2 separate regions of the Homo sapiens genome follow, and region 1 is linked to region 2. The links come from fine-mapping of genetic effects on gene expression. A gene starts in region 2. The other region holds a variant in brackets. All regions are shown on one strand. Distances are between the middles of the regions.

What was found.
Region 1: its variant is fine-mapped to the expression of IFNGR1 in T cells (TOPMed, PIP 0.98).

The regions. Positions count from the first base shown.
Region 1 is chr6:137,191,752-137,197,134 of GRCh38, forward strand. No RefSeq gene overlaps it. Among named protein-coding and RNA genes, the nearest start is that of IL22RA2, 21 kb to the left of the region's middle. The variant T/C (reference allele first, on the strand shown) is at 2,345.
Region 2 is chr6:137,217,225-137,222,607 of GRCh38, forward strand. IFNGR1 (interferon gamma receptor 1) reads right to left here and starts at 2,161. Exons shown (of 7, transcript NM_000416.3): 1 at 2,019-2,161. The coding sequence starts at 2,103. RefSeq lists enhancers at 301-360, 1,801-2,531, 2,382-2,631 and silencers at 1,342-1,391, 1,852-2,071, 2,112-2,341.

The DNA.
Region 1 (5,383 bases), 25 kb before region 2:
TTTTTTGTTTTTTTTTTTTAAGAAAGGAAGTGAACACAGAAACCAAGCACATGTTTTTGTTTTTGTTTGTGCAGCTGCCAGGAATTTTAGCCAATTCAGAGGCCTTGTTTCCCCTAATTTGGAATTCTCATTGGAATTTGACCAAGTCTGTTATAGTTGATCAAATCCTATGGGAGAAAGATCAGAACAACAAAAACCCCAACAATATGATTACTGAGTGCTCTAACGGTAAGGAGAAATTAAAACCAGCTGCTTGTCAATTTCAACTTGTAGTCATTAAGGAGAATTTCCAAGACAAAAAAATCCCAATTCTTGCTACTTACCTAGGAATAGAGCCCTGGCACAAGATTGCTCTTTACCATCTTAGAAGCAGGAAAAATACCTGGAAAGGTGCACAGGAACAGACATAAGGTTCTTGCCTTCCCTATCGGAAACTAGCTGAAACTCCAGAAATGAGTTACCTGCTATGCATCATCATGGAAGCAGAAAAACTTGCTTTCCTTGTTGGAATCAAGTAAAACTCCAGAAAAGGAGTTGTAGAGCAAAATAAGCTTTAGATCTCGACCAAATTTTGAGAGATCAGGGATTCTCTGGAGGGGGAACTCCCAGGCCTCAGCAAATTGTCCTTCTGATTTGAGCCATAAGGATAGCTCAAGCTGGTACCAAGCACCAATAGATTCATCAAAGGTCAGGGGCACCTCCACTCAGAATCCCTTCATCACCAATTTGTGAACTCAAAAGTATCTGAGACAGATCTCAATACATTTAGACGGTTTATTTTGCCAAGGTTAAGGATGTGCCCATGACACATGTGCCCATGACACAGCCTCAGGAGGTCCTGATGACATGTGCCCACGGTGGTCAGGGTACAACTTGCTTTTATACTTTTTAGGGAGGCATAATACATCAATCAATACCTGTAAGATGTACACTGGTTCAATCTGGAAAAGCAGGACAACTTGAAGTGGGGGCTTCCAGGTTATAGGTAGATTTAAGAATTTTCTGATTGGCAATTTGTTGAAAGAGTTATGTTGTTACCCAAAGACCCAGAATCAATAGAAATACCTGGGTTATGATGATAAGGGGTTGTAGAGACCAAAGTTTATCAGGCAGATGAAGCCTCCAGGTAGCAGATTTCAGAGAGAATAGATTGAAAATGTTTCTTATCAGACGTAAGTTTAATGCTGGTCAGCTTTTCCTAAGTTCCAAAAGGGAGGAGGGTATACTGAGTTATATCCAACTCTCCCTTCCCATCATGGCCTGAACTAGTTTTTCAGGTTAACTTTACAATGCGCTTGGCCAAGAGGGGGCGTCCGTTTAGATGGTTTGAGGTGGGGAGGGCTTACAATTTTATTTTTGGCTTACATAGTAAAGGTTAATTATCTCAATACAATTAGGTCATCTTCATTTTTCTTTTAAAAACTTTTGTCTTCCTTTATCTCCCTGAATACACAGGCAGTTTACTATTTTCTCATTGCAAGACCCATTCTCAAATATTATTTTCTTTTAGAGAGACTCTTGCTGTTATTTAGGTTCACAAGATGGTGTCAGAAGTGAAATAAAAGTGGCCTCACCTCAGATGGATCAGAGGCCCCTCGAATTGAGTGAAGTACCTACTGACCCCTTTGGCCCTCACCTCTTTTTATACCAGGAAAGGGACTGGCACATCTCTGGTTATGTAGCAAAAATGTCCCATAGCCCAAGGGCTGGGGTCTGACATCCAGTCTGACTACATACCTGTGTTGTTCAGCTCCACGAATTTTCCTTAAAAAGGCTGTCTGAGAAGCCAATGTGTGAGTGTTCTCTACTACTCACCTTTTATTGGTAGATATCTGCTCAATATTTAATTTTGGAGATACATTGTGGGTATTATAACATTTTATAATTAGCTCTAGAAAGGACACTCTGGGAATGTGCTAGTCAGAACATATCTCTGCCACTCTTTCCTCTCAATTAAATATCTGACACTTATCTCCTGGGCAGAGGAGATACTGGAGCAAAGAGAGCTTGGGGTACGTGGTTAAGCCTTAAAGCCCTGTAACAGTACCAATGGAGAGACCAGTTATTATTTGCAGGGCGGTGGAAGGTAGAGTAAGTATTGCATCTCATAAATGAAGCTAACTAATGACTATACAAACAAAGCTGGCACTTATTTTCTAAGTCATCCACTTATATCCTTATCAGGCATAAGAAGTGGTACCTTAAATTGGACCCAGGCAGTAATCTTAAGACAATTTAACTTGGCATGAATAATGGTTCAATAACGTGAATTTCTGGTAACCAGAAATAAGTAGGGGAAAAAAAATTAAGTTTAGACACAAAACTGTGTTGGAAAGATGATGCT[T/C]TAATTTTTTTTTTTTTTTTTTGAGACGAAGCCTTGCTCTGTCACTAGGCTGGAGTGCAGTGGCGTGATCTCAGCTCTCTGCAACCTCTGCCTCCTGGATTCAAGCGATTCCTGCCTCAGCCTCCTCAGTAGCTGGGACTACAGGTATGCACCATCACGCATGGCTAATTCTTGTGTTTTTAGTAGAGACGGGGTTTCACCATGTTGGCCAGGATGGTCTCAATCTCTTGACCTTGTGATCCGCCTGCCTCGGCCTCCCAAAGTGCTGGGATTACAGGCATGAGCCACCGCACCCAGCCAATGCTCTTACTAATTAACACAAATGGAAGCAATGACTCTTAAGAGCCAAAAGATAGAGAGAATGTAATCCAACCCTCTCATGAGGCTAAGCGATTTGCCCACAGCCACCAGGTTTGGTCAATCACTCTTGGAAAATAGCGTATACCAATTCATCAAAGTTTGAGGACAAGGGAATAAAAAACAAAATATAATATTGGTGATGAGAAGGCAGGATTACTCTTATTTATAGACAACACGTTTGTACACTGGGAAAACCAATCAACTAAAAACCATGAAGAAAAAACAGTTTAGATGTTGGCTAGATACAAAAACAACTTGTAACAATAGTTTGTGTGTGCGTGTACATATAGACAGCCATTCAGGAGCCACAATGCAAGATGACATTCCCATAGGCAACAAAAAACATAAAATATCAAGGAATACACTTAGTAAATTTTCTACACCTGTATGAAGTAAACCTCTAATGAGGGATGTAAGACTTGAAGACAGAAATAGTCTCCATTCTTGCAGAACATTCAACCCTTGAAAATATTAGTTATTTCTAAACATTTTATAAAGTCAAAACAATGCCAACATAAATCCCAAAGGAGTTTAAAATTTGGGGGAAAACTTGGCCAAAAAATTTAGGTTATAGTTCACCTAAAAAATAATTATTGCTGGCAGGGCGCAGTGTCTCACACCTGTAATCCCAGCACTTTGGGAGGCCGAGGCAGGCAGATCATGAGGTCAGGAGATCGAGACCATCCTGGCTAACATGGTGAAACCCTGTCTCTACTAAAAATACAGTAAGTAAATAAATAAATAATTATTGCTAAGAAATATGAGCAATGAACATTGGCTGAAAGTATTCAGGAAAGCCTCAGAAGTCAAAACAGCCTGTAATTGCAGCACTTTGGGAGGTTGAGGTAGGCAGATTGCTTGAGCACAGGCATTTGAAGCCAGCCTGAGCAACATGGCAAAACCCTGTCTCTACAAAAAAATACAGAACATTAGCCAGGTATGGTCATGAGCGTCTGTACTAGCTACTTGGGGGGCTGAGGCAGGAGTGTTGCTTGATTACAAGAGGTTGAGGCTGCAGTAAGCCATGTTCGTGCCACCGCACTCCAGCCTGGGTGACAAAGCTAGACTCTGTCTCAAAAAAACATAAAATATATCCCAGTATAATGTGTATTAAAAGTGTGATACATAGACGGGAAAAGACTGAACAACAAAACTGTTCCAGGAGTGCTGAGAATTTGGCATGTGATAAATGTGACATTTGAAATCAGCATAGAAAAGTTAGATAATTTAATGAATAGTATTTGGGATAACTAATTTGTTAAGGGAAATATATGAGTTGAGTTGTATCCTCAAAAAGATGTGTTGAAGTCCTAACCCCTGGTACCTATGAATGTGATCTTAACTGGAAAGTGTCTTTACAGATGTAATCAAGTTAAGAGGAGGTCATACTGGATTAGAGTGGGACTAATCAATCCAATTGACTGGTGTCCTTATAAAGATCTGGACACAGACATACAGAGAAGAATGCCAGGTGACAAGAGGCAGAAATTGGAATAATGCAGCCATAAGTCAGAGAATATCAAGGATTGACAACAATCACTAGAAACTAGGAAGGGGCCCTCCACCCCTAGAGCTTTCAGATAGAATCTGGCCCTATTGAAACCTTGATTTCAGACCTCTAGCCTCTGAACTGTGAGATAACAAATTTCTGTTGTTTTAAGCCACCCAAGTTTGTGGTAATTTATTACGGCAGCCACAGGAAACTAAAACAAAAAAATAAAGCTGGATCTCTATCTCTGTCCTCAAAGGAAAAAAATCTAGATGGATAGAAGAATTAAATGTAAAACAATCATCACCAAAGACCAGAAGAAAACATGAGTGAAAACTTCTATCTTTTGGGGAAAGGGGAAGGGCTTTTTAAAAATAGAAGGAAATAAATAAATTTGACTTTATAAACAACTTAAACATCTGTGTGGTAAGTCAAAAGGCAGGAAATTATAAAATAAATCTGTAACTCAGGGCAGATAAAGGGTAGTAAGAAAGATATAAACAGCCCATAAAAAAATGGACAAAGAACAAGATGAGTTGGCATGAAACTATAAATAAGATATAAAAACATGCTCAAATTTACTAAAGAAATGCAAATGCATTTAATGTGTAAAGTGTTTTACCGAGATTAAAGACTTATTTCAGTCAATTAGCTAGGGTGTAAAAACAGGTACTTCATTCACATTTGATGGGAGTACACATTGGTATAATCATTTTGGAGGGTAGTAAGTATTACCTCTTCCTTGGCTATTTCAATTATTTTCATATTTTTGCTTTTCCCATTCTAATGTGTGCATTGTTCATGTAGTTTTTTTTTTTTTTTTGTAATTTTCCCACAAGAGAGATCAAAGTCTGTTGAAGGATATTACTTTTGTGGAATGTGATATGTATGGGGTATCAGTTTGAAAAGCAATTTACAAGACATTACCCTAAAATCAGTGACTATACCAGTTCCACTGCAAACCACACCACTACTTTTTTCACTGATAGTATCTCATTTGTAATTTGCATTTTTAAGTGAAGAGAAATATCTTTCCAGAAACCAAAGAAATGTGATTTGCTACTCATGTAAATTGTATTTCATTTTTTTTGGTCCATTAATTCACAGATTCATATTAATTTCTGAATATTTCTATCCTCTTAGTAATTCCAAGAAATCCTTGGGTAACATATATATTAACTCTTGGTTTG
Region 2 (5,383 bases):
GTTTACCCTCAAACTATTTTATAAGATGACTGGTCTTTCTAAATGGCATGTCTGATCCTGCATAAAATCATTTCCCTTTGTAATTGATAATCCAATGATGTCAGCATTAGTAAATAATGACTGACTTCAGCAAGGCATAGTGGGTGTATTATTTTGTTGGCTCAACACCTGTACTTCAGGCACGCCATTCCGCTTCTTCTGGTAACCCAACCCAACCCTCTACGAGAATGTCCTTCCCATGCAAGCTGGCACCTGAACCTAGCTGGGCAAATCAGAGCCTTTCCCTGGCATTTTGTTAGAATGGAGGAGGCTGCAAGATGTCAAAACTCAGAAGCTGTCAGCATCCATGATTCCTGCCAAGTGTGGAAAGCTGTCAATACCCAGACAGAAATAAGAAATGGAGAGTCCTAGCAGTTTGGGTTCCTGGTTCTAGCCTCTTGAGACCCAGCTGGCATCTATAATTTTCTGTTTAACTCTGGTTTTTCTGAGACAATAAATTCCTCTTTTTGCTTAAGTTAATAAAGCTAGGTTTCTTGCTGGTACACATAATATGGCAATTCATTATTTGGTTCCTACTTCTCCACCTAACCTATCTCCTCCCCTTGTAAGCTCTCACACACACTTTACAATAGAACGCTTAATATTCCACGAATTCAACATGCTATCACACCTCTGCACCTCAGTCTCTGCACCTCTGGTTCCAACACTGGGGTCACCTTTGTGAAGTCTTCACTGACTTCCCTAAAAGAGACAAGCACCCCGCCTTGCTTTCCACTAGTCTGTGCCTAAGTGCAAGCTCTTACCGCAAAGTACTGCAACTGCCCATGTGGATGACTGACTAGAGCCTAGAAGAGCAGTTAAGAACTTGGACTCTGGAGCCAAATTGAGCAGCTCCCCACTGAGTGGCTATGACCTCTCTGCCAGTTGGGCAGGCCTCTCCGTAACTCAATTTCTCGTCCATAAAGAGAGAGACAAATAACGCCTACTCCAGAAGATTGTTGTGAACACAGAACCAAAACGTGGACCTTTCAAAGTCCCTATGAATCATAAATCATAATAAAAAAAAGAAAACTGAATTGAAAAGGTTTACTGTTTTCTCTGGAGCTCGTAATCACAATTACTCTGCACTTCAGAAAAGCCACCCTCAACATTTGTTTTCTAGGAAATGTCAATAAGCAGGTGGAAATAAAATGCTCCGAAGAACAAACCCGTACGAAGAGACCTACTGCCAAATCTGCTAGTGAGTGCCGGCAATCCACCACTTCCAGACTGAGACCTAAGACGGACTGCCACTTACTTCTCAGCTGCCACTTACTTCTCAGCTGGCGACATAATGCATACTTTCCTACCCTAAGCACTTTGAGTCCCCCCCCCCACCCCCGCTAAGAAAGAAGTATTTAAGCCACGAACTGAGACCACGATGCCACATGCTGATCAGGACACTCACAGTCATGCGTCACTTAACGATGGAGATCCGTTCTGAGAAATGGAGAAATGTCCCCTTAGGCAATTTCTTCGGGCAGTAGAAACCCAGACAAACCCAGATGACACAGCCTACTGCTCTTAGGTCATGAACCTGTACAGCCTGTCACTGCACTGAACACTGCAGGCAACCGTAGCATACTAGTGAGTATCTGCGTATCTAACCATAAAAAAAGGTACAGTAAGAAGACGATATTATAATCTTTGAGACCACGCTGTCCCACATTGACCAGCAACGTCCTTCTGCAGCGCATAATCGTATTTAAAAGTGGATTACAAGAGTCGGAAAAACAAGCGGCGTGATTTGTTGTGGCGGCAACCAGGGAAGAGGCAGGAGAAAGGCAACCGACGAGTTCAAACCACGGAGCCCCAGTCTCGCGACCCCACCTCGCGTCCCCGTCGCCCGCTCAGGGCCCGACGCAGGGGTCCCGGGCTAGGGCGACCTCGGAGAAGCGGGGCGGGGCTTCCCGGCTGGGGCGGATCCCTCCCTCCCTCTCGTCCCGACCCGGCCGCAGCCCTGCCGCGAACGACGGTACCTGAGGACGGCCCCAGATCCGCGGTGCCCATCTCAGCCCTGCTCACACCCTGCATGACAAGGGGTAGGAGAAAGAGGAGAGCCATGCTGCTACCGACGGTCGCTGGCTCCAACCCCGAGCGCCTGCGGGACCAGCCCAGCACTGCCCTCCAGCCCCGGCCTTACGTCACTTCCGTCACCGGGGTCTGTGCCGGCGTCGGCAGGAGGCGGGACCAGGGCGTGGGCGGGGTCAAGTCCGGGAAGCCGCAGGAGGCGGACTCAGGCGCAGCACCCAGCAGTGAGCACGGCGTCGTGCGGTCGGGACCTGGACTTCTGGGTGTGGGAGGAATTTGAGTGCAAAGGTTAAGGTCTTTCAACCTGGCACCCCATTCTGCAATTCTTCTTCCAGTTTTTTTCGGTTTCCTGGGGTTGTGCAAGTTTGCATTAGGCCACAGCCGAGCCACAATCCTTATTTTACTAACTCTTGGACTTCACCTGGTTGTCTTGGAGCCTGACATTTTTAGAAGAGAATGAGACTTCAAAAGCCATTTCCAGTCCCTGCTTTTTCATTTGAGGAACCTGAGACTTAGCTAGTGAAATGGTTTGTGCAGATTCCCACAGCCCAAATCAAATCGGCTTGACCAAGAACTACTTTGTTCTTGGAGAAAAAAACTATTTGCATTACCTTCTCAGCAATTCAGTGTCAAATCAGTTTATCAGGCAGCCTCTCATGAAGAGGTCTGCTCTCTTACCTCTCTGGGTTTGTCTGTTATTTTGCATCTCTCCTATTCCACTGCAGCCACATTGCTAAGTCCTTCAGCGCTTGTGCTCAAACATGCGAATGTCTAATGATCTCACCTGTTTCAATTCTCTGAGTATCATGAACTTTTGTTAAAAATTTTAAATTGCAACACACCTTCTCCTCCTCCTTACCCCGCCCTACTGTTTTTTCATGGCACTTTTCACCTTGCTGTACACTATAATATACACCTTGATATTTGTTTTCTTCTCCTTCTAAAATGTAAGCTCCGTAGAGCTGACATCTTTACTTGGCACTCAATTAGTATTTGTTGAGTGAAAGACTGCATGATTACTAGTGTTAAGGAAAATTTTTAAAGAGGGAAAATCCTTATAAAGACACTATATAAACTAGAGGTATTATCAGCCAGATCATTTTACTTGTATTAATAAATCTCTTAGCTCAGTACTTCTCAAACTTCAACATACATGTGAACCATCTGGGGATCTTGATAAAATGCAGATTTGGATTCAGTAGTTCTAATTCAGGTTGGGTCTTGAGATTTTGTATTTCGGACAAAATGCACAGGGGATGCTGGTGCCCCTTTCAACAGGACCACACTTTGAATCAGAAGAATTTAGCTCAATCTAGACTAAGTTTAGGGAGAATATTTCCTTTGATGTGTTTCTGATGTCCACTATATGAAAGACACCTTCTAGTCGTTGTAAGGATGCAAGGATAAATAACTGATCTTTACCGTTTAGGCGTCTATGGAGTAGGACAAAATATGATATCCAGTTTGTAAACATTTTTGTGGTACTTGTCACAGGCTGGGTTACCCTGGCAGTAAACTCTGAGGTCGAGATTAAGGTATAAGGCATTGATTGATTAGGGAGTGCTCTTGGAATAAACGTCTGTGAAGGGGAGGTGGAGGAAGCAGAGCGGAGGAAGAAGTTGATCTGTGATGCCATCCCAGTAAAGGCTCCCAAGGGGCGCTCTGGAGTTGGGATGGCCTTGTAAAGGTGTCTTGAGTTGGTATGAGGGGCTGGGTCTTAAAGCCCAGCACTGATTAGTCATTGAATACCAACTGTCATGATTTTGGGGCTGTCCATTTCTTTCATGGAGGCATTCCCCAGAGGAACGCTGACGGTTGAGGGTGTCTACTGGCAGCCCTCCTAGCATCAGGAAGGGGACAGAACCCAGTCTTCTGTTCCTGAGAGGGATCTGGGCAAGTTTCACAATCACAGCACCCACCACCCTACGTATCCTTCTGAAGACTTTGCTAGTTAGTCATTTGGAGACTAAATATATTTATTAATTGGGTGAATATTATCAAGTGATACTGTCTGTGACTGACATGACCAGGCACAGAGATAAAGACCTGAGCAAGACAGACATGGCCCCTGCCCTCACGGAGCTTACTGTCTACTGAGGGAGATAGCTGTTAAACAAGGAATTACACAAGTACTGAAATCGTGATCATCATTCCCAAGGAGAGCAATGGGAAGAGATTAAAGGAGTATAAACAGGAATTTAACTTAGTCTACATTTTAAAGAAAGTCTTTCTTTTCTTTTTTCTTTCTTTTGAGACAGGGTCTCACTCTGTCGTCTAGGCTGCAGTGCAGAGGCATGATCATAGCTTACTGCAGCCTCAAACTCCTGGGCCCAAATGATCCTCTTGCCCCAGCCTCCCAAATAGCTGGGACTACAGGTGTACACCACCATGCCTGGCTAATTTTTTTTTTTTTTTTTGAGACAGGGTCTGACTGTATCACCTAGCTGAGGTACAGTGGCACAATCTCAGCTGACTGCAACCTCCACCTCCCGGGCGCAAGCCATCCTTCCACCTCAGCCTCCCAAGTAGCTGGGACCACAGGCATTTTTTTGTGTCTTTTGTGGAGATGGGGTTTCACCATGTTGCCCAGGCTGATCTCAAACTCCTGAGCTCAAGCAATCCGCCCACCTTGGCCTCCCAAAGTGCTGGGATTACAGGAGTGAGCCACCTCGCCTGGCCTTATGCCCGGCTAGTTTTTAAATTTTTTATAGAGCTGGGGTCTTGCTGTGTTGCTCAGGCTGGTCTCAAACTCCTGGGCTCAAATGATTCTCCTGCCTCAGGCTCCCAAAATGCTGGGATTACAGGTGTGAGCCACTGTGTCTGGATTTAGGGAAATTCTTTTTTAAGGAAGTTACCATTATGTTGTGACCTGAAGGATAAGGTAAAATTAGCCTGAATAAAGTTAAAAGATGGGGGTGGCCACCGGCTAATAAGAGAGGTAGGAAGAAGAGCAATAAACTGTATTTTAAAATCCCATATAAAAATCTCATACAGCTAACACAGAAACAAATGAGCGGTGCCAGCTTTCCTTGATAAATTTCCAATGCCTAATGGCTGGGGAATATCCAAGTATACGTTGGTCCCCACTAGAGCCTCAGATTAGTTTTTAAAATGAAGAAAACAAATTGGGGTGGAGCGTAGATCATTCCAAAGCCAAGTGTATACTGAAGTGCTGCTGCTCAGGAGCAAGGCTACATTTTGAAGACCATACTCACCTGCCTTTCAAGTTAATAGGCCAAATAAAACAATTTAAGAAGCTAGAAATATGATCCAATGAGAACAGAGCCTGTGTGTGTGGAACAAACTGTGCATT